Linked DNA regions of Homo sapiens: regions 2, 3 and 4 are each reported to be linked to region 1. Evidence: microRNA targets listed by miRTarBase, many of them from high-throughput screens and not tested one by one. Region 1 holds a microRNA gene; each other region holds the end of a gene's coding sequence. Distances are from middle to middle.

What was found. The annotated mature microRNA hsa-miR-365b-3p reads UAAUGCCCCUAAAAAUCCUUAU and lies in region 1 at 4,084-4,105, shown strand. An mRNA with a match to its seed (bases 2 to 7 or 8) in the 3' UTR can be bound and repressed. Matches are read on the target gene's strand: a 7mer-m8 pairs with bases 2 to 8, a 7mer-A1 pairs with bases 2 to 7 and ends in A, and an 8mer does both.
Region 2: miRTarBase lists TMOD3 as a target of hsa-miR-365b-3p. Seed matches in the 3' UTR shown: 8mer at 3,805-3,812.
Region 3: the mRNA of ANKRD11 is a reported target of hsa-miR-365b-3p. Seed matches in the 3' UTR shown: 7mer-m8 at 6,231-6,237.
Region 4: the mRNA of SPOCD1 is a reported target of hsa-miR-365b-3p. The part of its 3' UTR that is shown has no 7-base or 8-base seed match.

The regions. Positions count from the first base shown.
Region 1 is chr16:14,305,257-14,312,714 of GRCh38, forward strand. MIR365A (microRNA 365a) reads left to right here and starts at 4,029; the gene lies at 4,029-4,115. All of the region lies in intron 1 of MIR193BHG (MIR193b-365a host gene), which reads left to right. RefSeq lists enhancers at 1,214-1,899, 1,900-2,584, 3,380-3,429, 5,316-5,610, 5,402-5,521 and 1 more and a silencer at 5,196-5,490.
Region 2 is chr15:51,905,885-51,913,342 of GRCh38, reverse strand. TMOD3 (tropomodulin 3) reads right to left here. Exons shown (of 10, transcript NM_014547.5): 10 at 1-4,567. The coding sequence ends at 4,533. It also overlaps the pseudogene RNU6-90P. Among named protein-coding and RNA genes, the nearest start is that of LEO1, 62 kb to the left of the region's middle. RefSeq lists an enhancer at 4,816-4,985.
Region 3 is chr16:89,261,621-89,269,078 of GRCh38, forward strand. ANKRD11 (ankyrin repeat domain containing 11) reads right to left here. Exons shown (of 13, transcript NM_013275.6): 13 at 6,010-7,043. The coding sequence ends at 6,858. Among named protein-coding and RNA genes, the nearest start is that of ZNF778, 48 kb to the left of the region's middle.
Region 4 is chr1:31,785,196-31,792,653 of GRCh38, forward strand. SPOCD1 (SPOC domain containing 1) reads right to left here. Exons shown (of 16, transcript NM_144569.7): 15 at 7,020-7,206; 16 at 5,227-6,096. The coding sequence ends at 5,408. Among named protein-coding and RNA genes, the nearest start is that of ADGRB2, 25 kb to the left of the region's middle. RefSeq lists an enhancer at 2,967-3,742 and silencers at 3,528-3,577, 3,908-4,197.

The sequences.
Region 1 (7,458 bases):
ACAGCACAATTTTCAGGAGTCCACAATTCCAGCGAGGCGCGTGGATGGGAAATTGTCACGTTGTGAATTGTGTTTGTGCTTTGCTAAATCGCCACCCGGAGCTGACTGTCAAATCCTATTTGCTTTGCTAAATAAGGATATCTCATCAAATTAGCCTTTAATGATACTTCTACAAATAGGGTGTTTTACATGAATTAACGAGGCCGGAACACTGACTGTTTCTCCAAGATACTGAGCTATAATGGAGGCGACGAAGCCGAATGTTAAAATTACTGAATTGTTAAGTGTGCAAAATCAGACAGAATTTAGTGCTAAATGTGAAACAATTTCTGCTTTAATGGTGAGCATTCGCAACAGCACAAGCATTACTTATATTCAGCCGTCTGAAACTGTGCATGTAATTATGAATACATTTAACAAACTTTAACCCCCCTCTGAGTCTGGAAACAGTCTAGTATGGTGAAGAGATTATAAATCAGCATTTTGCAGTGAGAAGTCATCATTAATTCAGCAAAGAATCACAGCTTCTTTTCAGATCCTTCCCACCACCCTCCTACACACCCCCCTCAACCAATAAGGAAAAAAAAAATTCAGCATGGAACTGCTGGATACACTGAATATATTTTGGCTTTTCTCTTTTTGCCTCTGTGTGAGAAACTTCATTAAGCAGTTGCTGTTCCCTCCCCACCCCCGCTAACCCCCAAAGAAGTGTGGATTTAAGAAAAAAAAAAACAAAAAACAAGCAACTTTGAATTTTGTTCTTAGCAATCCCCAAGCCATAGCTGATCTCAGAGAGGCAAAAAAGATGTTTCAATAGAAAAGAATACGGTATGGCCAGGAGTAAAATATTTAGAGGTGGTTCTGCAATGAATATGATACTTCCTTAAAAATAAAATATATGTTGGTGATTCAAACCAATGAAAGTTGGAAAAGTCCCTCCAAGGGAACACTCTCTCTGTTTCCCTTCCCAGCAACCCCCCAACTTAACGTTATGAACAGAAAGATGGAAATTCTTGCCAGATCAACTATAGCCTCCTAACGATCAGCTCACCCTCCTTTAATTTTGATTGTGGAGCAAATACAGCTATTTTAGCCATGAGGATAAAAATGAGTGCAGTGAAAAGTTAAGGCAAACTTGGTACTTAAAATCACTCACCAGAATAAAGTGCGTGTACAAACAAAACATTGCTGATCAGTTACTTTAAGCAGGCATTTTCTTTCTCGCCTGAGCACCCCAAACACAGAAAAATGTAGAGTTCTTTTTGCTTCTTGTATCTGGAGCAGGTGAAAATAAACCCTGACGCTCACAAACATGATATAAACAACATACTTTTCAGGCCTAGTAGCCAAGCCGACTTTTCAGGGAAAGAGATGGACGTTGAAAGAATTTAGGAGTGGACTTGGGGTTCCCTCCATCACCCCATGCCCAGCTGACCCCTTCTGCCCTTCTCATGACCTCTTTTCAAAGCAGCCAGTGTTCAGATGCTGCCTTTCCAGCGTCCCCAGTTGTAGGGGACATATGCACATATTTACCAAGCTTTAAAATAAGGTTTCTGATTTTATATCATCCGTCTGAGTTTACGGAACCACAAAGCAAACTTCTTTCTCCGTGTCCCTGAAATGCTGCCCCACTGCAGCAAAGGGGACTTCGCCTGGGCAGGGAGAGGAGTTAGTGGCTGGTTGCGCCTAAGGTTAGCTGTGCGGTGTGGTATGACAGTTTTCTCAGAGATGTGCAAAAATCTAGGCTCTCTTGCTGGAATCGTGTGAGATCAGTGCTGGGCCTGTTGGCATTGGCATTTGTGCCCAAGACAGCCCAGACCTCTGCCAGCCGAGGCCCAGATGTGGCCTCAGAGCCACTACTGGTGCCCAGACAAGTCCAGACAGGTGCCTGGGGGTCTTTCCTCCCGAGACGAAGCCTGCAGCAGTTCAGCCAGAAGATGGGGTATTTGGCTCTCAAAGTCAGCCTCCCCAGAGACTCTGCAGGGTTTAATAGCCTGGTGACCCTGTGGGCTCTGGCGAGGGCAGAACCCCACTTTGCTTTCCAAATGCTCAAAGGGGAACAGATGAGGCTATCCCACAGGCTCAGAGCAAATCTGTCCTGTGTGAGTGCAAACGTGGTTCTAGAAGATTCAGAGGCAAAGCTGAGCTTTTGCAGCCCAGCCCCAAGCCCTTGCTCTCGAGCACCAGGGCTGCGATCCTTCGACTTGGGGTGGGCCTAGGAGGCGTAGCTCCCAGCCAGCAAGACAACACATAACACATCTGAGTTACCGTGCATGTGTTTGCTGGTCTCTTCTCCAGCTCCGTGAGGCCTCCCACCTGGGAGCTGAGCCTTTTGCTTTGATCAGGCTGGGAGGAAAACCTAGGCCAGGAAGGGCCGGGCTGCAGGCTGGAAGTGGAAAGAAGTGGGCCAGGTGGACAGAAAAAGGGGCCACCAACTAAGCCACCTTGGGGGTCGGCCCAGAGTGAGAACTGGGCTGGCATTCTGGGTTCAAACACACAAGAAAACTGTCTGCAGCCTCTCTGCCCTGGCACCAACATGTGCCTGCTCCAGGAAGTTGCACCCAGCCCTGAGTCAGCCAAACCCGTGGGACTCCCATTTGGCCCCAGTAACTGGACTCCAGGCTACCAAAGGCCTCGTGGGTTCTCGATCGTATCTTAGAATGGCGTTAAAAGGTCCAGACCCGGCACCTGTAGGCCATGCCGTATTTAGCCCTAGGTTCACCCGGAGAATATTTTAGGTGCTACTTGAAAGAAGAGATCTGGGCCCTAGTTGCCGGCTGTCACATGGCAAGGGTAGAATCGCTCCCTCACAGACCTGGCCGAGATGGCCGGGTGCTCACTGGTACAGGTGCCCAGAGTCCCTGCCAGAGCTTCGGGGCCATGCGACGGGTGCCAAGGAGCCAGCTAGCGACTGGGGCGTCGGTTCTGTGTGGGGATGCCTTTTCACCCCGTTCTCAATCTGAAGGCAGTGAATCCACTTCCATTCACAGAACTCACAGAGGCCTCTCCTCTCTGAGATGGCCCAGTGTGATATCCCAGGCTGCGTAGTAAGCTCCTCCTCTGGTGTCAGCCATGTGGAGGGGTTAACCCTTTCCTGGCTCTGAGGGTGCTGGCTGGCACAGGGGGCACCCACCTGCAGGGCCTCAAAGGTTATATGCCTTGGGGAAGACACCCTGAACTCCTTAGTCCTCAGATCTTAGTGGCTGAACCAAGAGATGGCACCTGGGACCTTAGCAGTAAAACCCGTCCCCTTTTTTTTGAGACAGTGTCTTACTCTGTTGCCCAGGCTGGAGTGCAGTGGTGAGCACAGCTCACTGCAGCCTGAACTTCCTAGGCTCAAGCCTCATCCTCCTGAGTAGCTGGGACTACAAGCACACACCACCACACCTGGCTATTTTTTGCAGAGACTTGGGGGGGGTCTCACTGTGTTGCCCAGGCTGTTCTCAAACTCCTGGCCTCAAGCAGTCCTCCCACTTTGGCCTCCCAAAGTGCAGGGATTACAGGCGTGAGCCCCCACGCCAGCCGGTTTGCCCCTTTTGCACCACCAGCGATAACCACTCAGCTCCCCTACCCAAGCCTTAGTCCTTCTGTCCGTGTTGTGGAAACCAGGTATTTTCATCAGCATTTCCAAGGGGACTAAGTTTCTCCCATTCCAGAGGAGGAGGTGTTGAAGGATAACTTAGATCATTAATGAGGGTCTGGAACAGTCATCTGAAGTTTGGGGGAAACGTCACGTCTCCTATGATGCGCCTGGCTTTAGGGAATAATCCTTGTATCCATTTTGGGAACCTGCTCTGGGATTCCAGATCTGTGGTTTTCTGAGCACGTCTGTGTGGAAGCTGCTGCACTGAGACCTATTTAGCCAATTATTGAGAAGATGAGGTCCCTTTCGTGAGTCTGCACGGAGCCGCCGTACACCATGAAAGCGCTCACTTGTTTAAAGTTTGCTCTAACTTTGTACATTTTTTCCTTTTTAGTTTTGGCTCTTGGTGCTCTGAGAGCTACCACTTCCTGCCAGCTGGTTCGTTACCGCAGGGAAAATGAGGGACTTTTGGGGGCAGATGTGTTTCCATTCCACTATCATAATGCCCCTAAAAATCCTTATTGCTCTTGCAGTATTCCTCGGGGGTCCCTGGGCCAGAAAGACATCAGCTCGGAGTTCCTCCAGCAACTCAAAGAAGAGAGAAAGCTGTTCCCCAAACTCTTCCGCTGTAGCGCCTTCTGGGTCCCTGGTAGATGCCTTCTTGTGCTCAAAACCGGTTATCACTGTGAAAAATTGAAAGACGCCATGCGCAGACACTGGTTGCTAAACGTGCTTTTGCCCTCCAGGGGCAGACGCTGAGATCCGGCCTGGGAAGGAGTACAGCTGTGGCTCCCCATCAGCGTCAGCATTTGCTCTGGGGGGTTGTAGGGGGAGGTAGGGAAAGCGGAAAGAAACAAGTGTTACCTGTTTGACGAGGCCTGGTCCTTGCAGCCAGGGCCTCCGGGATCATCGCCTTGGCAGGGGGCCCTGGGGCAGTCCTGGCTTTCCTGCTAGCTCCCTGAGACAGAACACTTTCCCCGCTCGCTGCCTCAGTTTCCCCATACACCAAGGGAGGGGCAGCACCCCCTGCTCTGGCTTCAAAGGGTTCTTGGATGTAGCCAATGTTATATATAAAAAGCTCTAACGTTGTATAAGCTCTGAAGGTGCTTTGAAAATTGGAGAGTCCATGCATTAAACATGGAAGGTAATAATATGAATACACACAGAGGAATTCATGGGTGGGGAGACGGCAGCCCAGCACTGAGCCTGGGTTTCTGGGATCAGCCAGGCCTGCATTCCAGCCCGAGCTCTGCGCCTCTCTTGCTGTGTCACCCGGGACAAGTGAGTCAGTCTCTCTGAGCCACCAGCTCCTCAGGCATGAAACCTGTAACTCAGACTCCCAAGTCTGATTTGCACATCTCTGATTTTAAGCGGCGCCGGCTAAAGGTGAAAATTATTCTAGTAGGTATTCTTTGCACCGCTGATTTGTACTTCAGGCAATTGGTTGGTTTTCCATTTAGGGTCGGGAGACAGGGGCCCTTTTTTTGTCCATCAATTGATGTCAGTTAAACAAAAAAGAGTGGGTGTTTTGGAAGAAAAATATTAAGCAACTACAGCTGCCCTGAGGATGGGACAGAAATCAGAAAGTCGTGTGTAAAGTTTCAGAGGTCCACTTTTAGAGAATTCTTGTTTATCTCAGGGATTTTCCGCACTCCTGTAGTCGGTGTGGGGAGGGGTGGGGGGAGATGGGGGAGTTGCCAGTTCAGATCTGTAGAGGGCTCCAGCATGACAAAACTGGGTGTCACACATCTTCCTTTTGGGGGTCGGGAAACCACCCTTCCCTGCTCACCGACACCACTGGGACCCCTCACCCCCCCACTCCTGCATTGATCCATAGCTCAGATTTCTCTCTCATTTTAGGGTCACGATGACTCAGCACCCTCCTTTCTGGCCAGGGCACCTCCCTTGGCCTCTAGGGGCACTTGCCTGACAGGCCTCACTGTGCCGGACCTGGGAGCCAGCTGCCCACCAGCCCCCTGGGACTCTGGTTTTGCAGGGAAACCATGGGTGATCAGTCCCAGCCGGCAGGGGCCAACTGCGGTTTCACTTTCTGCTGCATCATGGGGTGGGGGGTGGCAGCGGGCCCCCGCTGGCCAGCTAGAGCAGGCACTGAGAGGCCTGCAGACAGCTGCCGGCCCTGCTGCCAGAACGCACCCCCCACCCACCCCCTGCAGCCTGCCAGGATGGGGGCTGGGCTCTCAGGAGCCCCTTAAATCTTTCCACCTGCACAGTGTCGGGGACCTCAAGTGAGAAAAGCCTGGAGCCGATGAGATGGTTTCCTGAGCTGTTGGAGATTCCCCCAAAACAACCTTTTTTTTTTTTTTTTTTTTTTTAATTGAGACAGGGTCTCTCTTTGTCACTCAGGCTGGATTGCAGCGGTGCAGTCAAAGCTCACTGCAGCCTCGAACTCCTGAGCTCAAGCGATCGTCCTGCCTCGGCCTCCCAAAGTGGTTGGGCTACAGGTGCATGCCACCTAGTCCTGCCCAAAACAAGCTTGTAAATCACGCAGGCTAGAAACTCAAGAGAGCTGTGATTGTTGCTTCTGGGTCAGATTGCTGTGGCTAGACACTGCTTCTGCCCTTCCTTCCCTGGATAGATGGCTGCTGAGGCCCTACTGTGTGCGGAGCTGGGTGCCAGGTGCTGGAGGTACAGCAGGGAGCCAGACAGCCCCTGCCCGCATGGGGCTCACAGTTGAGTCAGGGGAGACAGACAAAAGAATCAAAGAAATAATCCAGCCGGGTGCGGTGGCTCACGCCTGTAATCCCAGCACTTTGGGAGGCCAAGGCGGGTGGATCACGAGGTCAGGGGATCGAGACCATCCTGGCTAACATGGTGAAACCCCGTCTCTACTAAAAATACAAAAAAGTTAGCCGGGTGTGGTGGCGGGCGCCTGTAGTCCCAGCTACTCGGGAGGCTGAGGCAGGAGAATGGCGTGAACCCGGGAGGCGGAGCTTGCAGGGAACGGAGATTGAGCCACTGCACTCCAGCCTGGGCAACAGAGCGAGACTCCGTCTCAAAAAAAAAAAAAAAAAAAGAAAGAAAGGAAAAAAAAGAAATAATCCCACGTTACGATGGAAATTTCACGCTGAATACTTGGTGTTAGGATCTCAGGAAGGGATCATGCATACATGTCTGTCATGAGTCAACTCCCAGAACACATAGCATAGGAGGCAAGGGAAGGCTGCCCCTTCACCCGCTAAAAGTTTGCTAAAAATAACTGACAGGCCAGGCATGGTGGCTCACGCCAGTAATCCTAGTACTTTGGGAGGCCGAGGTGGGAGGATCACTTGAGCTCAGGAGTTCAAAATGTTCCTGGGCAACATAGTGAGACCTTGTCCCTATTTTATATTTATTTTTTAAAAGTTTTTACCAAAGAAATGACTGACAACAAGTGGATTAATAGGAGAAAAAAGCATATGAGCCGGGCGTGGTGGCTCATGCCTGTAATGCCAGCACTTTGGGAGGCCGAGGCATGAGGATCACGAGCTCAGGTGATCAAGACCATCCTGGCTAACACGGTGAAACCCCGTCTCTACTAAAAATACAAAAATTAGCCAGGCGAGGTGGTGCACGCCTGTAGTCCCAGCTACTCGGGAGGCTGAGGCAGGAGAGTGGCCTGAACCCGGGGGGCGGGGCTTGCAGTGAGCCGAGATCGCCTCACTGCACTCCAGCCTAGGCGACAAGAGCAAGACACCATCTCAAAAAAAAAAAAAAAAAAGAAAAAGGCATATGAATTTATTCACCATGCATAAACGCCAGGGGAGTGGCGGGAGAATGATTATCCAATAACCCAGTGAAGTCCATCGCTGGGCACAGTGGCTCACACCTGTAATCCTGGCAGTCTGGGAGGCCGAGTCAGGTGGATTGCTTGAGGT
Region 2 (7,458 bases), not on the chromosome of region 1:
CTCAAAAAGTTTTCAATTAGGGATGTTCAATCTGTAGATCTAAGAATGACCAAATTAAAATATAAGAATAAGGCTGAGTGTGGTGGCTCAAGCCTGTAATCCCAGCACTTTGGGAGGCCGAGGCGAGTGGATCACCTGAGGTCACTTTGAGAACAGCCCGGCCAACATGGTGAAACCCCGTCTCTATTAAAAATACAAAAAGTTATCCGGGCGTGGTGGCGGACGCCTGTAATCCCAGCTACTTGGGAGGCTGAGGCAGGAGAATCACTTGAATCTGGGAGGTGGAAGCTGCAGTGAGCTGAGATCGCACCACTGCACTCCAGCCTGGATGACAGAGTGAGACTTGGTCTCAAAAAAGAATATAAAAATCTTTGCCTCTGAATACTATTTTCTCAATTTAAAAATAATTAGTGAAGCGTTTCTTTGATTTGTTGGTAAGCAAATCTTAGGGTAAGAAATATCCAGAAACATTAATGATCAGTGAGAGCTGATGGAGAGGATAATTTTACAGATACTTAGACCCCAAGAACTCATAGCCCTTAACTGAGAGCAGCAACCCGAGTTGTCTCTAGTGCATCCATATGTTTGCTTCTCTTGGGTGACATGGGTCAATACGTTCAAAGTGCAGTAACACTGTAGAATGAGTAAATTTGGGCAGTACTAAACTTGCAAAGAATGGAAGTGACTAAGGACTCCAGAGAAAGCATGATCCTTGCATCTGCTGGGAGGTTAACAGTGGTTCCTAGTTTTTTAGGGAAAAAGTGAGGCAGCCCTGGGAACACAGACCCTAAAATGTAAGATTTTATAAAACTTCATAAATGTTGTCATCTTATTTTAATGACAGCAAGAGTTAAATATAACGTACAATATGATATGAGTAACATTTTATAAAAAAAAAAAAATTTTTTTTTTTTTGAGACGGAGTTTCACTCTTGTTGCCCATGCTGGAGTGCAATGGCGCGACCTCAGCTAACTGCAACCTCCGCCTCCCGAGTTCTAGTGATTCTCCTGCCTCAGCCTCCCGAGTAGCTGAGATCACAGGTGTGTGCCACCACGCCTGGCTAATTTTGTATTTTTAGTAGAGACAGGGTTTCTCCATGTTGGTCAGGCTGGTCTCGAACTCCTGACCTCAGGTGATCCGCCCACCTCGGCCTCCCAAAGTGCTAGGATTACAGGCGTGAGCCACCGCACCCGGCCCAAAACATTTTTTAAAATAATTTTTATTATGTCATGGAATCCTCTTTTTAAACAAAAACACAACAGATACTCGGTCAACTGGAAAACAATTTATAGAATTCTATTTACATGTAACTTCTCCAGAGCGAATATCTTATACAAAGCAAGGATGTGGGTTATTTCAATCAAATAACATGAAGTCGCAATTAAATGACCAAGCTAACTCTCCTTGAAGTCTCTAACCATCTGCTAATTTATTTAATACAAAATGCTTATTTGGTCTTTTAAATGACAGGCAACTTTGAAAGTGTATTTCACCTATTCTTGAGAATTCTACTAGGCTTTAGCTACAAGAATATAGCACCAAAATCCATTTTAATAGTATTAATATTTGCCACTAATATTGAGTTTTTAATACATACAATTTCATGTAGGAATACTGGAAAAATTCAGACAAATATGAGTATAACATTTTATAAAATGGGTAATAAAAAGCTTTTTTAAAAATAGCAATTTAAAAACACAAAGAATATTCTTTTAAATAACCACATAAGCTGGTTAGACTACAAAACCTAAGGTCTCAGAAAACCTTTGGCTTAAAAATTAAGACTATTGCAAAACCCTAATCTATTTATTATAAAATTTTAGAGCAATTTAGAAATACTGAAAGTTACTAAGAGGTGCCAGATTTTTAAAGATTGAAGTAAACCCGATTTTTCTCCCTTATAATTTTGGAAAGATTTTGTAAATTCAATTGGATGAATGTTCATATTTAATGTCACTTATGAAGAAATCATTTCTTTCAGTTATACAATGAACTACTATAATGCAGAATTGAAATGGTACAAGCAAAATACTCAACTTCATACTTTGATAAATAATATATGAAAAAGATATTACCCATAAGTATGATGCAAAATTTTAGGTAGAGTCCCACTTACCTATATTAAAAACAAAAACAAAAACAAAACTTAAGGGATGAAGGGGGAACTATTTATCAACTAATTGACTTACAGGACAATGCAAACGAGGATGCCTGACTGAAAGTCTAGGTGACCAATTCTTTCTGGTAGCCTGAGATGCCTGCTCCATGCCTGACTCCCAATCTTGCTGGAACTGTGCAGTCTCTATAAAATCAAGTACAATCAAAAAGCTGCATATGCGGGGAAAAAAAAAGAGAGGAGAAGAGAGGGAGGGAGAGAAATAGGTAAATAGAGAAGGTAGGAAGGGAGAGGGATGGAGGCAAGGGAGGCAAGAAAGCAAGCAAGTGAGCCTTGCTAACTTAGAAAAATATCAGTGGCCTTTAACTGACAGGGAATAGTGCAAAGTTAACCTTTGGCCCCTATAAAACATTGGATACTGATTTAAAAAACAAAACAAAACAAAACCAAAAAACCAAAACAAACCAAAACAAAAAAAAAAAAAGAGAAACACCACAGTTCTTATGAGGGAAGCTTAGCCTGTTAAGAAGGCTTATTACCATAGCACACAAGAAGCTGCCTTGCTTATTAGATAAACTGTCCAGCCCAAGCCAAAGTAGCAGACATATTGCAATTCAATTTCAAAAAGTTTGTTTGTTTGTTTGTTTTTTGAGACAGAGTCTTGCTTTGTCACCCAGACTGCAGTGCAGTGGTACGATCTCAGCTCACTGCAATCTCCATCTCCCAGGTTCAAGCAATTCTCCTGCCTCAGCCTCCTGAGTAGCTGGGATTACAGGTGTGCACCACCACACCCGGCTACTTTTTTGATTTTTAGTAGAGACAGGGTTTCACCATGTTGGCCAGGCTGGTCTTGAACTCCTGACCTTAAGTGATCCACCCACTTTGGCTTCCCAAAAGTGCTGGGATTACAGGCGTGAGCCACTGCGCCCGGCCCAAAAAGTTTAAAAAAAATTAATAATGATTAGCCACCTTGCCTTCCTCAGAAATGAGACTTTTCCCTCCAGAAAAATCTCTGTAAATGATACAGCCAGGCCTGAATTTTGAGGCCAGGGCTACCTCAGATTCCATTCCTCCCTGTTTTCTGCAGCTGTAAATGCCTCTGCCATCTCCTGCTCCAGGGGCTGCCCTGAGACAGAACATGAATACAAGTCCAGACCCTCTACCCAGCATCAGCTCTGCAGTCTCAAATCAGTCTCCCGACCACAGTACTCTATTCAATTGTTCACCTTAATACTTTGAGCAAGAAAGACTGCTTTTATTATAGAAATGACTTTTATAAATATTGATAAAAGTATAAGATGAAAGGAAGCATATACTAAAAATTAGATTTATGAAGAATAGCAGTTTTCCTTCTTGGTTGGAAGATTTGTAGCAGTGATTAAATACTGTTTATGCAATTCTGCACTGCACATAGGAACTTCTTCGGATATGGTGTAACACCAAGTAATTTACATACATGCCAGCTTCCAACTGACTTACAGTAACCATCAGTTTAAATGACTGTTTTGCAAGTGCCTCATACTGGAAATCTATCATATTTATTATCTTTGATTTCATTGTTTAACAGTTTTCTTTTTTCTCTTACCCTAAATAACTAAGAGTTGGCTGTACGCCTTTTTTGGGGGGTGGGGAGGGAGGTGGTGAAAACAGCTTTTATTTTTTACTATTAGCTTCCACAAAAATTTAATAATGCCCACATTATTAAAATGAAACACTGGAATGAACTTCGACCTCACTATACTTTTAAATAAAGTATGTAACCTGGCAAAGCTGATGACTTTGTTTTAAGAAGACCTGGGTGTTGCTACGTCACATCAGACAAGTGCAGTAACCTGGAATGCACAGACGACCACCCTCTCTCCCTGGAGACCTGCTTTAGCTCCTACACAGATGACTAGATTTTGAGTTAACTGTTTTAACATTCTGGCATTTTGTTCTCTTGATAAAGAAAAATCACACCCTTGCCAAGTTCATGTATTTTAAAAAATGGAAAACTCTCCAGGTCACGGAGTGAAGAAAACACTTAAGTGTTTTATGTCTAAATGAAGCAATAACAATTCTGATACCAGCAACATCCCTTTTGATTTAAAAAAGATTGGTCCTCACAATGTTCAAATTATTCTACACAAATGACCTGTGAAATTTTTTACAGTTGTATTTTTTTGCCCAAGATTCATCATAAATCATTCAATTAAACTAAATTAAAATTGATTTTAGCAGAAAGTAGAAATGTTTCAGAATATAAAATATCACATTACTGATTTTACAATTTGATAACAACTAAAAAAAAAATGCATGTCACTAAAAAAATTTTTCCAGTCTTTTCCCTTCTACCCAGGAAAATTTTACATGATGTCACCAACATGAGCCCTTGGTGATCTTCTGAAGTCTTCCAAAGATTACACCTTTGCAGACTTACTGGTGATCTCCTTCAACTCGTCTCTTACGCACTATGAGAAAAATAAAAGAAACTATGTTAGAAATCCCTATTAGTTTTTACAATGGTAACTTGCTTATAACAAGCAAGTTTCTGCATAATCCAGTTATAAGTTTTACAAAATTGAAATGTCCATTTCCAGTTCACATGACCACTAATTAAAAAAAAAAAAAAAACAACCTACTTCCCATCATTCACCACTGTCATTTACTTGTTGAGAACCAAGGGGCTTCAACAAAAGAATTACATGCCCTAAGCTCAATGACTCATAGCTGTGCTTACACAGCAGCAGCACTAGAAATCTAAAACAGAATGGTCAGCAATCATCTACAAGTCATTTGTTTTTGTTTATTTTTAACTTTGTAATTTATTAATAAAACAGACATTAGGTCTCACTATCTTGCCTAGGCTGGTCTTGGACTCCTGAGCTCAAGTGATCTGCCCGCCTCAGCATCCCAAAGTGCTGGGATTACAGGTGTGAGCCACTGCGTCCAGCCCAAGTCATTTGTTTACTGAAAAAGTACATACTCAGGTTTTAAAAAACAGCTAATAAATTAGTGTGTTAAATTTTGAAGTGACATTCAGGCAGCTGGGGTTAGAACATATTAAAAGTAACTATTTGCATGCTCTCCTGATTAGACACTACAATGTATTTCCTTAGGCTGTAAAAGAATATACCAAAAACATTTTTGTCATTTTTATAGGTAAGTGATTTGCTACTGCTTTCTGAATTTTCCTTCTTTTGTCTCCTGTAATATAAACCAGTTCAGGGTCTGATAAAACAACAAATGCAAAGTAATGAAAATCTCAGACCCTGGTAATATGGTGTGGTCACTTCCGGCTACCATAAACTTTGGCTGCCTAAGTGGCCAGTCAACTAGCTCAGCTTTTACAGCAAAGAACGGTACATGTATGTATCTGAGACTACCAGCCTCTTCCTGGACTGGTGATGTCAAACTACTCAGGGGTGTTCTCTAGTAGCAGAACAAGGTCTTCAACTTCAGATCTTGCTACCTGCGCTCTCACCTATCAGCCACTAGAGAGCATTCACTGAGGGCCACCAATTCAGGGCTATCAGCATTGTGGCCGGCTCCTAGAGAGGACAAAAACCACAGGTTCCAGAGTTGATGACAAATAGAGTGAATCATGGCTCTGTCACTTCTGTAGTGTGTACTTTGGCCTAAATTGGCTGTTTGACAGAGGAACTAGAAGCCAACAGGTACACCTGGTGTCCTGGCCAGGCCATAGACACTCTGCTCTTGTGCTCTTCTGACTGCTGACTTCTGTTTGTCGGCCTTTAATAGATAAGACCATACGTTCAGATGACGTATATAAAATCTTGTTCAGCCATAGGCTGGGTGCTTGCTTGAAAATAAAACCAGAAGGACTAAAGTATCAGGTTCCCACGAACATTTTTATAACTATCTAATTAAGTTCGCCTGACTCTTAAGTTTATTTTATTTATTTTTTGCCAGAACTCAATAAAAATAGGGATTGCTTCATGAATGTCTGTGTCATCCTTGCAAGGGGCCATGCTCATCTTCTCTGTATCATTCCAATTTTAGTGTATGTGCTGTCAAAGCAAGCAACCGACTCTAATTTTAATCCATGCTAACAAAGACAAGTTTCATGTGTTCACTGAAGTATTAAGAAAAAAAATTAAATGGAGACTTGAGCCCTCAAATATCAAATCATGTATATAGATCTCTGAAAAATATAGAAATGTCTGAAAGGCAAACTTCAGATAATTCTTTTTTTTTTTTTTTTTGAGACGGAGTTTCGCTCTTGTTGCCCAGGCTGGAGTGCAATGGCGCGATCTCGGCTCACCGCAACCTCTACCACCCAGGTTCAAGCAATTCTCCTGCCTCAGCCTCCCGAGTAGCTGGGATTACAGGCATGCAACACCACACCTGGCTAATTTTGTACTTTTTAAAGTAGAGACGGGGTTTCTCCATGTTGAGGCTGGTCTCGAACTCCTGACCTCAGGTGATCCGCCTGCCTCAGCCTCCCAAAGTGCTGGGATTACAGGCGTGAGCCACTGCGCCCAGCCCAGATAATTCTTTAGGGTAGAACATTTCAACGAAAATTTTGAATTGCAGCAGGGTTTGGATGTTACTGGCATACCACTTCAGATGCTATAATGCATGTTATAGAAAAGATCTACAGGACAGAGTGCAGCAAACAAAAAAGGTCTAGAAAATGGAATATGCAGTTAACTAGTGTAAAGATAGTAATGTGAGACTCAAAGGTAAATAGAATATTGCATGTATACCATAGAACCTCTTTGCTGTTACAGCTGTGACACTTCTTAGCTGGAGAGATGGAGAGCAGGTAGAATTATTTCAATGAATAGCTGAGACTAAGAAAACAATGAGAGAGGGAACGATGTTATCAAAATCAGAACTCAAAGATCTGATAAAGCCCCATCTACAAGGTGAAAAAGAACTATATGCCCAGGAGATTCTGTACAAGTTTCAAGTCTTGTTCTTTGATTATCTCTTTTGAGTTAGTACATATCAGGCTGCTGAGACCAATATGTCAGAAAACATGGTCTTCAGGCTTTTCAATCTTTATCTATTAGGCAGAGGTCAGAGTATACAGCTGAAAAAAAGTTAAGCTGAGCAGAAGAATGAGAGGTTGCTGCCGCTGTGTGCACAACAGAGGACAATGGGGCAACGGGCCATTTCTGACCCCTCTTTCTCACCTGGTGCTCACTTGTTACCTTCCAGCAATTCCTCAGCTCATCCTCTAGATGGCAGGCTTATAAATTTTGCCCTATTAACAATTCTTTGGATCTGGTCCAATTTCTTTTTTTTTTTTTTTTTTTTTTTTTTTTTTGAGACGGAGTCTCGCTCTGTTGCCCAGGCCGGACTGCGGACTGCAGTGGCGCAATCTCGGCTCACT
Region 3 (7,458 bases), 75 Mb from region 1:
GTTACTTTGTGGTTTGGTTGCTGCTTCTGTGTGTTTAGTGACTTTTCTGGACTAATTCTCTACTCCCTTTGCTGTGTGACCAGTGAACGCTCTGTACTGTACAGTTTCCTTAAATGCCTCGATTCAGTGAGTCTTTTTTCCCTGGCTGGGAGGCTTTTCCAGCAGTTTCCAGCTCTGCTGTAGCTTTCGCTTTCTGTTTGCACAAGGCCTCAATCAGCCAAGGGGAGATCAGAGAATGTTCTGTCCCTTCCTGGCCGTGCGTACAGACCCACACGTGCCCAGGGCTTTCCGTGTCCCCAGGAAAATGTCAGTGCTGCCCGGGTCCCCACAGGCGCCTCGTTCCTCACCTCGTCCTTTCTGGGCAGGTGCCGGCTGCCCCAGTGGGTAGTGCCTTGGACAGCTGTGTGGTTAAACGGTGCCACTGATTGTTTCTGACCAATGCTGTGGAAAGGGGGCTTTTCTCACTGAGCGAACTGCAGGGCAGGCCAGATATCACAGGCCTATGAATGCTTTCCAGGGAGCTGCCAGAGGTGAGATTGAAGCAGGCTGTTTCACCGGAGTCGTAATGGGGTGCCTGGTTTACTCAGCCTGCCGCCCTCAACCCCTCGCGGAGGGAGTGTGTGGGCCAATGAGGCAGGACTGGAGTGCAGGATCGCTGGAACTGGCCGGCTGTTTAGGCACCGGTGGGTTCAAACTCCACTCACTTGGACCCTCTGTGCTCCACCCCTTGCAGGAGGGTGAGCAGGTGCAGGAGCTGGAGCAGGTGCTTTTGGGTGCCGGCAGCAGTGAACTCTGTGCAGGCCCCGTGCAGCATCCAGGGCCGGGGTACCTGTGCCCCCCAAAGCCCCAGAGGGCGTGTTACGGGGCTCCTTTAGCTCTGCCGTCCACAGACAGCTGAAGTGTTAACAGCTCAGTGGACCCTCTGCCTTTTCGCGTGAGGCTGCCGGTGAGAGGCAAAGGGCCGGTGTGACCGCCTTTTGTATCCACCTGTGGCTCTAGAGCTCGTCTGGCATCCAGGAAAAATGAGGTTACGCAAACGAATTGAAGGATGGTAAATGTGGGGGATTTTATTGCTGATGAAAGTGGCTGTCAGCAGGAAGGGGAGCTGGAAAGGGGATGGGGCGGGAAGGTAATCTTCCCCTGAAGTCTGGCCACATCTGTGTCTGCAGATGGATTCTTCTCTGAAGTGACACCGTCAAGCTGTCCCTTAACATCCAGCTGCTTCTCCTCTCTGCTGGCTGAGTCTGGGGCCTTTATAGACACAGGATGGCGGGGGGCAGGGTGGGACCATGGTGGTTTAGGAACAGGCAACATGAGGGCAGGAAAGCAGGGATGGCAGTTCTCAAGGTGGGCCATGGTCTCAGGCATTTCAGCTTGAGGGTGGGGCTTCACCAGGAACCTGCCCCTGTCTGCCTAGAATTTCTCTACCTCCTGTCCCCATCAAGATGGCAACAGCTCTCTCTGGGGTGGGACTTTTGGGGGCTCATACTGAGCCTGCCTCTCTGGGCTGCTAGTTTTCAAAGCACCAGAGAGTTGGAGTAAGGAGAATGAAACACGGCAAGTTAAAATGACAAAGCTCTCTGTACCAATATTCAGCTGTTTTTCTTTTTACTTTTTCTTTTTGGAGACGGAGTCTTGCTCTGTCAGCCAGGCTGGAGTGTACTGGTGCAATCTTGGCTCACTGCAACCTCCGCCTCCCAGGTTCAAGCAATTCTCCTGCCTCAACCTCCCAAGTAGTTGGGATTACAGGCATGTGCCATCATGCCCAGCTACTGTTTGTATTTGTAGTAGAGACGAGGTTTTACCATGTTGGCCAGGCTGGTCTTGAACTCCTGACCTCAGGTGATCCACCCACCTCGGCCTCCCAAAGTGCTGGGATTACAGGCATGAGCCACCATGCCAAGCCTCGGCTGTTTTTCTTTAATAAACATTCATTAAATTATTACAAGCCTTAGTTAATAATTTCCAGAGTTCTGAAAAAGTTAATTTTGACAATTTTTTCCCTAGTGGTGTCATTGCTTTTCTCGAGGAGGGATTTTCAGAGGGACTTGCTACCCTGGAAGTCCTGCGTCCTTTCTGTCATATCAGCTCACCCCCTCAGAGGTTCTGACCTGGGACATAATCAGTCTCTATGTAGCTGCTTTGAATTGTCATTTATTTCCCCTTTTCTTAATTGTGGGGGTCTTGACTGCAGGGTAAATGGCTCTGGCTGCTGCGATTTTAACTTGGTATCTTTCCTTTTTCTTTCTTTTTGGAGACGGAGTTTCGCTCTTCTGGCCCAGCCTGGAGTCCAGTGGCACGAACTCGGCTCACTGCAACCTCCCTCCCCGCCTCCCGGGTTCAAGCGATTCTCCTGCCTCAGCCTCCTGAGTAGCTGGCATTACAGACTTGTGCCACCACACCCAGCTAATTTTATATTTTTAGTACAGACAGGGTTTCTCCATGTTGGCCAGGCTGGTCTTGAACTCCTGACCTCGTGATCCACCTGCCTCAGCCTCCCAAAGTGCTGGGATTACAGGCGTGAGCCACCACACCCGGCTGGTATCTTTTTTTTTTTTTTTTTTTTGAAGACAGAGTCTTGCTCTGTCCCCCAGGCTGGAGCAACCATCACAGCTCACCGCAGCCTCAGCCTCCTGGGCTCAGGCGATCCTCCCGCCTCAGCCTCCCGAGTACCTGGGACCGCAGACGCGCTCCACCATGCCTGTTCTTTGTTGTTGTTGTTGAGACAGGGTCTCATTATGTTGTCCAGGCTGGACATGAACTCCTGGGCTCAAGCATCCTCCTGCCTTGGCTTCCTGTTGTGATTATAGGTGTGAAATACTACACCCAGCCTGATTTTTGGTTTTAGAGACAGGATCTTGCTGAGCTGCCCAGGTGGGAAGGCAATGGCTGTTCGCAGGCTCACTCACGGTGCACTACCGCCGTGAGCTCCTGGACTCAAGTGATCCTCCTGCTGCAGCCTCCCAAGCAGCTGGGACCACAGGTGTGAGCCATGTTTCCAGTTTATCACAGGTAATTTCAGATGTGAGTGACGTTCTGTGCCCAGTAATGGGGCTTTTGGGGTTTATACCACTGCACTCCCCCAGCTGTGGTGTACAACTTGCACCTCGTCCCTGAGCTCTTGCTGATGCCACAGCTGAGCTCTTGCTGATGCCACGGCTGCCTTCTCACTGCCTGTGGGTCCCTCTCTCTAGCTTCAGTATTTCATTCTGCTTTCCAACAGAGCCAAGCTGGGCCCAGTTCCTTCTACTCTCCTGTGAGACTGTCTTCGCTGTCCCCCAGCGGGAAGGAGGAAAGCAGCTCCCTGGTGTGGGGGGAGGTGGGTGGAGGTTGTGTGCGGCTCCACGTGCTGGGGCCCTTCCCCTCCTGCCAGGCTCAGGCCCAGGCCCAGCTGCCGCTTGGAAATGGCGACCCCTGAATGGAGACCTGTCTTGCCAGATGCTGCACGGTCTCCTGGGCAGAGCAGGCGCTCTCTGTGCGGGGAGCTGACGGCTCACGGGCTTTCCACAAAAACCTCTCACCTCCTTCCAGGTTTTACAAAAGCCACCAGCTTCTCTTCTACAGCAGCAAAAGCCGCCATATTTCTTTCCTTTTTCTGTTGAAGCCTGGGGCCTTACGCCTTGGCAAGGTGTCAGCTTCCCTGAGAGGGGGACCCTGTGCCAGAAAGGGGTGCCAGCTTCCCTAAGAGGGGGACCCTCGGCTGGGGAGGGGCACCGGCTTCCCTGAGGGGGAACCCTGTGTCGGGGAGGGGCGCCAGCTTCCCTGAGAGGGGGACCCTGTGCCAGGGAGGGGTGCTGGCTTCCCTGAAGTGCCTAGGGTCCGAGCACTCACCTGCTCTGTGCTTTGGGTTTGTTTGTTTTTTGTTTTTTTTTTTGCTAATGGCAGTCCTCAGAGCCTCCGGAAGGGAAGGCATCAGGAAGGCTTGAGTTACAGGTGGTGGACCCTCAGAGCCAGCCTGCTCCAGAGCCCGGGCTCCCAGGCAGGAGCTGGGTAGCGCTGGGGTCCATGGATGTAGTTGAGCGAGTGGGGTTACGCCATCTTCCTCCAGCTCCAGCCAGAGACTCCCGAGAGCGGTCTGAAGCCCACATGGGTGGCCCCGGGCAGCAGGGTCTCCAGGCTGGCACGCAGGCTCCTGCGGTTCTGGGTACTCTGACGTTTCTCAGTGTTTATTCACAAGTCTCTCTGAGGGGCGGCAGGCTGTCTCTCGTCCCCTATGGCAGGAGGCTGTTTGGGAGTCGCATGTGCGGCATCTCTGGCAGGTGCACGGGAGCCGAGACTCCAGCAGACCAGGGTGGGGGCCGGAAGGGAGCTGCTCTCGCCTGACACCCCTCGTGGGCACCCGAGACAGGGAGGCACAGCATGGTGGCCGGGACGTCGTCACCACTGTGGGCTGGAACTGCAGCGTGCTCTGTGTGACACAGGCTGACTCAGGTTTTTCTTTTAAGGCAGGGCTTAAAGGAAGTTTTACTGTGACCAAAGTTCTGTGATTGAGGGGGTGTGGAGAAAACAAAAAGCCTGGCCAAGATGGTGAAACCCCGTCTCTACTAAAAATACAAAAACTAGCCGGGTGTGGTGGCAGGCGCCTGTAGTCCCAGCTACTCGGGAGGCTGAGGCAGGAGAATTGAACCCAGGAGGTGGAGGCTGCAGTGAGCTGAGATTGCGCCACTGTGCTCCATCCAGCCTGGGGGTCAGAGCAAGACTCCATCTCAAAAGCAAGCAAAAAACCCCCAAAAACCCACGAAGCCCCCAAAACAAACCACAGCTAATCCGAACCCAGAAAAATAGACTGGAACCTTCTGGCTTCTCCACACCCCCACCCCAAGCCCGTAAATGAGGTGGACAACCCTGCCTTTGCTCAGGCTCAGCCCTGAAGGGAACAGGAGGGAATCCACAAAAGTTCTGTTCACAGATCGAAGACAGGAGAGGGGGCATGGCCCCACGCCTACCCCCAACCCCACGCAGGGGCCCAGCTGGCGAGGGAGCTCACAGCAGCCTTTGGGGGAATGAAGCCACTGCCCCCGCCACTGGCTCAGCCTGGCAGGGCTCAGGGACCCTCCCAGGTCGGGCTCCTCCGCAGGGGACCCAGTGACCAGGACCCTGTTGATTCTGATGCACGGGCAGTGTCTGCTCTTCTGTGGGGGTTGTTTCTGTAGCTGCCACTCCCTCCCCAGCACCCAGGTACAGGGGACAGACAGCTCAGAAGGAAAAGGGTGAGGCGCCTCCATCAGCTCACCCTCCTGTCACGCCGGGGGCCAACAGTCTCCTGGAGCCACACTGGCTGGAGGGTCCTGGCAGGCATCCTCTGTGCCAAGATCCTCTGAGCAGAGGCCTCGCATCTCCATGCTTGCCTGAGCTGCCTTCCAGCCAGGACAGGGCTCTCAAAGCGCGGACCCTCACCAGCTGCAGCTGCCAGGGAACTGTGGGCAGGGGCACAAGCCAGCCAGCCACAAGCTGAAGCTCAGGGGCGTGCACAGCTGGCCACGGGGTCTGGCCACGGCTGCAGTGCTCAGATCCGTGGGGAGTGATGCTCCTGTTTCTCTCCAGCTCCTACAAGAGGCAGTAATTCCACAGCATTCCCGGTCTGTGCAAAGGCAGAGGACGAGGGGAACAGATAATTTGTTTCAAAATTAAAAGCTAACAACTTGGTAGGAAAAAGGTTTTCTTTTTTTTCAGACAGAGTCTGCTGTGGAGTAGGGTGGCGTGATCTCAGCTCACAGCAGCCTCCACCTCCTGGGTTCAAACGATTCTCCTGCCTCAGCCTCCGGAGTAGCTGGGACTACAGGCGCGCGCCACCACACCCAGCTAATTTTTGGTATTTTTAGTAGAGAGGGGATTTTGCCATGTTGGGCAGGCTGGTCTCAGACTCCCGCCTCGGCCTCCCACAGTGCTGGGATTACAGGCGTGAGCCACCACGTCTGTCCTGGGAGTAAGAAGGTCGTCGAGAGGGGCGACACTGTGTCAGTCCCACACACAGCCCCTCTCCTGGAGGGACGCACTGTACAAAGAGCATTTTAATTAATTTATTTATTTCTTTACACATAACTGAAAGTGATGTTACAGTACATAAGTTATTTACAACTGTGCAGTAATGTGTTGCAAAATAAATTATCTAGAAGGCAGCAAAAGTACATTGTGAAGGTATATAAAACTGTACAGCGTTTACGGATACACTTTTTATATGATTATTGGCTCTGTAGTGTTTCAAGTTACGTTCTCAGAAAGAGAAACAAAATGCCCAAGATTAAAGGAAAGAAGATACAAACCACGCGGATTTGACTCCATTTCAATACGGCTGGGAGTCCTGGCTCTGTGTCCCTCCGCCTGGCTCCGCACCAGGTCTGAAGCCCAGTCTGAGGCCGTCGCAGCTCGGCGGCAACAGAACCACGGCTGGGATGGGGCTCCTGCCCCTCCGACCTGCAGGTCACTGTTTGTGAGAGGTGGACACCTTAATTTTCTTTAGTTGATCAGAATGGAACAAAAAATTTTAAAAATGTACTCCGTTCTCCAACTCCTGAAATGCCTCTGCAGTTGCTGGAGAAAAGGGCCCGAAGGTCGCCGTTTTCAAACAGAAGCTGCCGTGTGTGCGCGCCCGGCATGGTCTCCTCATCCCGCCGGGGCCAGTGAGGCTCTGGGGGCTTTGCCCCCGCCGCGGCAGCTGGTAGAGAAGAGACGTGTTTCACCTCCCCGACGTCTGGACCAGTCTGGAAGGGATGGAGGCGCTGTGGCCAAGTGCAGTCTCTCTCGGGGTCTCTCCCCGCCCGGGTGGACAGGGCGCTCCCTCCTCCGCCCCTGGGGCTCAGCAGCAGTCCTGGGCAGCCGTGCGGCCCTCGCCTGCGTCCTGCGGCCGTCCCGCGGTGTCATGCCGGCAACAATACAAAGTCGTCGTTGACGTCGACCATGGGCACGTAGAAGGAGGGCACCTCGTTCACGCACAGGGACTTGTGCCCGGCGGGGTCCAGTTCCTGCACCTTCAGCTGCCACTCCATCCTCTGCACGGCGTTCAGGGCCGCGGCCTCGTGCTGCTGCCGCATGAGGAGGCAAGTCTGCGGGACACACAGCGGGGAGAGGAGGGAGGAGGAGTGAAGGGAGAGCCCCAGACTCTGCCGACCTCAGCTGCCAGCAGGGCCAAGGGCGTGATACGGCCGTGAACCTACCCTGGTATGGGCCAGGCCCAGCTGTACCCGCTCCTGGCATCTAGTTACTACACGTGGCGGTAGCGCCAGCTGTGCTACATGTCTGTCCCCATAACCGCTGTCTATGCCACCTCTACCCTGGCCTGGGGCTCACCCTGGCCCGGGGGCCCTGCCCTGCTCTGGGTGGGCCTGGGACTCACCTCCAGCAGCCACTGCAGCTTATTAGAATCGAACAGCTTTGCTTTTGTCATTTTACAATTACTTACGGCCAGTGATAGTTTCACTTGTATTTCTAGTAGAAACTATGCCATTTAAAAGTGCACAT
Region 4 (7,458 bases), not on the chromosome of region 1:
TCATCTCAGAGAGTGATGGGCAAGTGGACATGTGGGGGTGCAGCTGTGTGGGATTTTGTGTGTGTGGCCAGCCTGTGCACACACTGGCTAGGTCGGGGTGTCACAAGCAAAATGTGATGTGTTCGTATTCGTGACTGGCCATGTTTGTGTGTCTGCATGACTGTATTCTGTGCATGACAGTGTATGTCCCAGAACGCGAGCAAAGTGCATGGGTCTCACGTCTGGGGGTTTTCCCAGGGAAGCTCAGGGTGGAGACAAGGGTGGGGAGGGCTTGAGCCCAGTGGGGACTGGAGCTGTGGCTTTAAGAGGAAGGTGCTCAGTGAATTCCTGGCTCAGCTTTCAAGCAGGAGAAATTAACCTCCATGTCAATCTCTTGAAAGGGGCTGAAGTCCCTGTGAGGGAAGCCAAGTCAGGCTGAGAGCATCCCTGCCTGTCCTTGAGCCCCATTCCGGTGGTGGGCAGTGGGGGGACAACTCTGCTTTCAGGCACCATCCCAGGCTTCCCAGGGAAGCGTCCCTCCCTGGCCCCAGCACAGAGACAGGACACATGTAAAGCCACTCGGAAGTACAGGCACACAATTACCTAGACATGGACACTGGCACAGCGTGATCACACGTGATCCAGACACCCACATGTGTAGTCACAGATCTGCTGGGCACAGTACACGTACATATACCCAGGCATCATGAGACACTCACCTCATGCAGCCACACAGACGTATAGGCACATGCATGTTTACACACAGTAATGTGCCCATACATGGGTGAAACACATTCTTGCAAAGATGCACATGCTTAGAGTCACATGCATGCAGACACACTTGCATGTTTTCACACACATTCTGTCCCTCCCGTGTCCCCTCCCACCCTCCAGTTCTCTCTCAGTTCAATTCTCTCCAGTTCACTCCAGTTCTCTCTCAGTCCAGGGCCCTGCTGCCGCCCTCACCCACTATGGACAACCCTCTGAAGGGCATCACAGGAGGGTTGCATGCATATGTGACCCTATGAGTAAAAATCTGTGTGTGTCTACACGTCTGTTTGTATATGTGAGTGTCACTGGTAGTCTGTGTGGCTCTAGCTCTGTGAAAATGTATCTTTATGACACTGTGGGTATTTTTCTGTGTATCTCTGTGTATGCTTCTGGAAGGCCCTATGTGTGTCTGTGTGTACCCGTCTGTGAATGCGAGTATGTGAGACAGTGGGGAATTTTTATATCTATATGACTGCATTCTGTGGGCCACCTCTCTAAGTATGTCTGGATGTGTATATCTCTGTGTGCATTTGCATATCTGTGCCTGTGTACATGCCTCTGCGGTCCAGGATCCACAGTCTGGCTCAGTGGGCACCCCTGCCAACAGAGGCTGTGGCCCGGGGTGGGGCCAGGCAGGACTGAACTGAATACCCTGGCCATTGACAGTTGTATTTACAGAGCTCCGAGTAGGAACGTAATTGCTTCTATTAATCTTTCTCCGGTTGTTAATTGCTCACTTATCGGGTTGTGTATTATGCCGACTGTTGCTCTTAATTCGCCTCCATAGCTGCAGGTGTTTGCTGCCTTATTAACTGTTAATCGGCGCGACTAGGGATGGAGACTTAATTGGCCCCCAGAGTGGGACACAGGCGGGCCAGCCGGACACTGCCAGGCTCACAGCCTGTCCCTGGAACCCTCACCTGTGGAGCACAGTTGGCTGGCCCACCGCCATCCACCAGCAGACAGCAGTCTTGCATACAGCAGTCAGAGTGACAACTGCAGAGTATGGTCTCCATGCAGTCCTACCTCCTCCAGGAAGCCACTCAACCCCTTGGAACCCAGTTCTTACATCCCTGTCCATCACCAACAATCTTCCTCCACACAGGATAGGAGCCAACCCCAGTTTTTAAATGAACAAGAGCCTCCAGGAATTCTGCTGCTCCTATCCAGCACACTTAAGGGGTCCCTCTCGGCTTCTGCTTGCACAGTGCAAAGAACAGGGAACTCCCTCCATGGCACTGTTACATAGCTGCAGCAACGAGAAGGTTCTCCATACTGAGCTGACTTATTACCCCCCACACAAGTTGAAACAGAGGAGTCCTTACTGCCTACAACAGGGAAACTGAGGCTCAGAAAGGGCAAGGGGGTGGCCCCAGGGTTCCCCAGTCCTCTCTGGTAAAGGAACAGACATGTGGCTCTCCAAGCAGTTTCTGCTCTCAGTCTCCCTTCCATCCCAGTCCTGCTCCATCCCAAACACCTCAGTCCTGGAAGGTACTTCCTTAGCCACCACCTGCTCTGCCCTGGTCTTCGGGCCTCCCAAGCTCAGCTGTCACTGCTACAGCCGTCTCAGGCTCCAGGCCTTTGGGACAAGAAAGCAAGTTTTCTGGAAACCAGTGGGCTCCCTGAGAGAGACAAGGGTATAAGGGGGAGGCGGTAGGAGGGTCCACACTCACCAACCTGACCTCCAGCTTCCAAGAAGGACAAATAGAGAAAACAATAGTCCTCATCCTGTGCATCAAATCCAGTCTGCCCTGACATCTGGAAGTTCTTCTGGTGTCTAGTTGTCATGTCTTAAGCGGCAACTGAAGTTGATTTGCTTTGGTTGGGTTCTGAGAAGAGTTGGGCTCCAGGGAGGGAGGAAGGGAGCACCACTGAGTGCCTACTGTAGGCCAGAAAGCAGCAATTAGTGTGTGTAAAAGTGGCAACCAGTTAAACCCTCCCATCACCTGGTAAGTTAGAGATTAGTATCCCTGTTTACAGAGAAGAAAACTGAGCCACAGAGAGGGTAACTAAACTTGTCAAGGCCACACAGCCAGAAAAGGAATTGGAGTGCCAACAAGGCCTGGCATTGCTTGGGAAGCTGGGTGTCTTCAGTCAGGGATATCTGGATGGATTCATGCTAAGGGTTCAATAAGGGGACGTGGGGAAAGGGAACTGATGGTCACTGTCACAGCTCACTCATCCACCCCACATCTGAGAACATGGACAGGCTAAACACTCACGCATGCGCAGCCCACATGCCTATCAGACGGGATGAGGAAGAAGCAAAGAGAACCGTCCAGGGATAGTTGCCCAAACAAGTTCCGGCCCCGCCTCTATGTTAATGACATGCAGATATATGTAAATTTGTACAAGCAACCGCTCAAACCTTTGGGAGCAATGGGGTGACACAGGAGCAGTTGCTATGGAAATCCAAAAGCGATACCCGCTCTGCACCCCCACCCCCCTCACAGGCAGGCGCACAGACACGTGCACAAAGACGCAGGGTTCTTCACTCCGGAGCCAAGAGGATCACGGAGTGGCAGAGTGTGAACCGGAAGGACCCTCAGAAACTGCGTCCAGCCGGGGGAAGCTCAGGCCCGAAGAAAGTCACCGGGAGAGCAGTGTCGCGATCCCTGGTAGCCTGGGGCGCCTTCCACTAAAACCCAGGGCGCGAGGTGTCCCTTCCGGGTCCCGGGCGATTCCGGCTCCGGCCTAGCAACAACAAGCCCCGCCCAGCGTTGCATAGCAACGTCCCTGGAGCCTAGCAACCGTCAGTCACGCCCCCTAGCAACGTCATGCCTAATCCTCGCTCCAGGCTTCTGCCGAGAGAGAGAGGGGCAAGGGGCTCGTGGACTGGGGCCAAAAGGTGGCGGGGGTGGGGGAGGGTGTCATGTTTAGCAGGCTGCAGGATTTCGGGGCCCACCTACAGCCCTTCCACGGGCGAGCTGTTACAGAGCCGCGTTATCACCCCCATTTACAGAAGGGAAAACTGAAGCTCCCAAAGGAAATCCCTGCCCAGGGTACAGAGCTCGCTCTTGCCTGCGTGTTCCAGGAGAGCGGCTCTGGCGGCTCTCCGGAGGAAGCCCTGGACCTGGAGGGGAGGGAGTGCACACCCGTTTCCCTCCATACCAACTGCATTAGGAAAACCACCCAAACTGTGGGCTCAGAACCAAGCTGTAGGTTTGCATAGTAATTTGCGTCATTTGCATAGAGCGCGGAGGCTGCGGCGCTCCCAGGCCATTTCGAGCCGGAAAAGTTCCCGAAGGAGCCCCGCTCCCTCTCCCGGTTCAACTGTCCAGCCCCCTCTCCCTACCCCTCACCCGCACCCCACCCGCATCCTACCCCGCCCCCGCTTCCAACTCCTTGCGCTAAGTTCCCGCACCTCGCCCCACCCCCCGCTTTGACTCCGGTCCTGCCAGCCCCGACCTCCATCCCAAGGCCGAGGGCCCCCTCTGCTGTCGTCCGCGGGTAGGGCAGCCGCAGAGCTCATGGGGCAGAGAAGAAGGGCTCCCCCAACCGACCATCGCCCCACCCCTTCCAGTCCAGCAGGGGCCAGGGTGAGGCCTGTACATGGGTGGACTTTGCGAAGGGGTGAGCAAAGAGCGGGTAGGGCCCTTCTGGCCCCGGGGCGAAGGGTGGGGTTCTAGAGAGGTTCTCTCCTGGAAGCCAGGCCCCTTTCCCCACGCTGGGTTGGTTGGCCCTGGCAGCTGGTTCCCCCATCAGTCCGCAGATGCAGCTCTCTCGAGGTACACCCCACATGAAACGCTTGACAGTTGCAGTTGCTGTTAGAAGCTTGTTCTAGGCCCAAGGCAAGGCAGCACCGTCCAACCCTAATACCAGTCTCCAACCCCACCCTGAATGCCCACCACCAAGGCTAAGACCTTTGACATTTTCTAACACCAGTCTCTGGAATCTGGCAAGAGATACAGAGAGGAGTCACCCAATCTGGATCTCCTGACTTCCTCAACAGAGACCTACACACAGGCAGGCCATGAAACTCACACAGATACTCTCACATGCTTGCAGGCACACTAGTGCACAGAGATCCCTGAGAAGCACATAGACAGAGACTCGGAGGGAATATGGTGAAGGTATGTACTATCCTTCCCCATCTAGTCAAAGGAAAAAAAAATCTTAGTATTAACTGAAAAATTTAAAGTCCACTGCAACTTGCTTATCTTTTCCTCTCTAGCAATCTCTTGATGTCTGATGTCTGTGACCCTCCAAAAGGCTCTGTCCATTTCTCTCTCCACCCCCAACCTCGGTCCTACTTTCTTTCCCACCACCACCTCTTCCTCCTGGTTCAGAATACTTGCAAAATGCTTCCAGAAACCACCGTGGCAATAGCTGTGCCCTGGGGCGCAGTGATGGTTCAGGACCTCAGACCAGCAATGAGCAAGGCTGCACATTTGTGCACAAGACACTCACTGACACACCCACTCAACCCACATCTGACCAGGACCAGGGGCTCTCCTGACCAGCTAGCAGATGCAATCCCAATTTTACCAAATTCTTTATTGAACAAAAAATCAACAGCAAACATTGTCAAACAGGAAGTTCAAACAGGGCAGGTGGGTAGGGCTGACCATCCTCTCCTTGCAGTCCCACCTCTCTCTGGAACAGGCTTCAACACTAGTGAGGGCATCAAAACCCCTGTTCTGGTGGGTAAGGAGGGTCAGGCCTTTCTAGGGAAGGGACACTCAGAGCCAGCTTCATCTGTAGGCCCCAAAGAGGAGTCACGGGCTGGGCCAGGGGGCTCTGGAGCTGCAAGGGCGCTAGACAAACGCTGCAGAGGGCGGGGGATGGAGCTCTTGGTCTGGGGGCACAGTAAGGCTTGGAGCTGGTGACTCATGGTCGCCAGGGATTCGAGGTGCCGGAGCAGGGCTTGGTGGGGACAGGAGTCCCTGTGGAAGTGCTGGCCACGGCCAAAGCCATGACCAGCTGGTGCTACTGAATAGGGATGCTGGGACTGGCGCAAGCCTGGCTCTGGGGGCCACTGCCCTCGCCCAGGATGCTGCCAGTTTTCAGGCTCTGGCCAGAGCCTCCCCCTGCCTCTGGGGGGCCTCTGCCAAGCAGAGATTCCCCTTGGAGCTATACTGCCCCTGCCCTGGCTCTGCTGCCAGGCACCTCCTGGGGGAGGGGTGCCCTTCAGGGGCACATTCGGCCTCCTGTCATCTGGCTGATAGTATCTCTTCTCCACCTTACTGTTGAAGGAGACCATCTTTTGAACCTTCCCCAACCAGGGGCTGGACCCTGCTGTGTCTGGAAGCCCTTCCTTGGGGAGCAGCACAGCCAGCAACAGACTTGAGTGAGTGACCTCCAGACCTGGGGAAAGGAGAGGGGAGACAGGAAGAGCCCAAAGGCCTGCGGGGAAGAACTGTGTTCAGCTTAGCTGCAGCAGATCTGGAGCCTACATCCCAGGAAGGGCTTCTTCACAGTGAGATGGGGCCCATGAGATGCTGGGAAAAGTAAGTAGGAAGGTGGGGCTGTCTCGGAAGATTTGAGCTCTGCGGGATCAAGGCTTATCTGGCTGAGGCTGGGGTATGGATTGTTTGACCTGAAGACTCTACAGACTCAAAGTCTACCTCATTGTCTCAGGACATGGAGCCCCAAAAGGCCAAGCGCTTTGCTCAGGAGTGGGCAAAGCGCCCACTGCCAACCTCGCTGCTTTCCTGAGCCACGCCGTGGAGGGTGTCCATGCACAGAGGCCGAGCTCGGCCCCCCGTGGCTGTGGCGAAACATCCCTCCCTCCTCTCTGAGGTGACATTTACAGTCAAGTGTGTGTAGGTCCTGACTCTGTCCTGCTGCCTGGGTCAAATGTGGCTGTCCCTGGAGTTTCTCTTCAGGGGTGCCTACCTTGAGAGGCAGTGTGGTGTGGTGGTTAGGGGCCAGGTTTCTGAAGCCATGTTGTGCTTCACACAACGTGTGAACAGAGTGAAGCCCAGTTCTGCTGTTGACTGACTGTGTGACTTTGGACAAGTCATTTGCCTTCTTCCTCCCTCAGATTCTTCTTCTATGAGATGGACAGTCTAGTCTAATAGTACCATTCTCATAGGGTGATGAGACTACAAGAATTCATCTAGGTAAAGCTTTTAGAACAATGGCTGGCATGCAGTTCATGATATCCAAGCGTGAGCTATTACTGTCATTGTACTCACATTTGCCTGGCTGGGTGAGGAGTTCCCTTCTGAGATGTGCCTGCCTCTACTGGGTGACTGTGTCAACCGTGCCTGGTCTGGTCACCAAGTGAGCAGAGGCAGGGTCTGGTATGGGGACTAGGCACTCACCTGGGCCCCCCAAAGGGCGCAGCCTGGTGGGCAGGGGCTGGAAGGCAGGCAGGGGCAGCAGGACCATCCCCATGTGCTCCACAGAGGCCAGCCCGTGGCGCTGCCTATCATTGAGGTATGAGTAGAGCAGGCGGCAGTTCTGGGTGTCCCGGGCCCCATGTGGGCACAGTCTGACCACGCAGACGTCCTGCGGTGGCAGGAGGAGAGCAGCTGTAAGCGCAGTCATCCTCTGCTCCTGCCAACACCCCTGGGCTCCCTGAAACCCCTGAGAACCCCGTGAGAAAGTATGTCTCCATCTTCCAGAGGAGGAAACAGAGGGACCTGTCCAGGGTCACACAGTGAGTCTGCAGTCACTCTGGGAACTAGACCCAGATATCCAAGCCAGGCCTCTGCTCTAGAAGTGGAGAGGGAGGTGGGAGTAAGGTACTAGGAAAAGAGG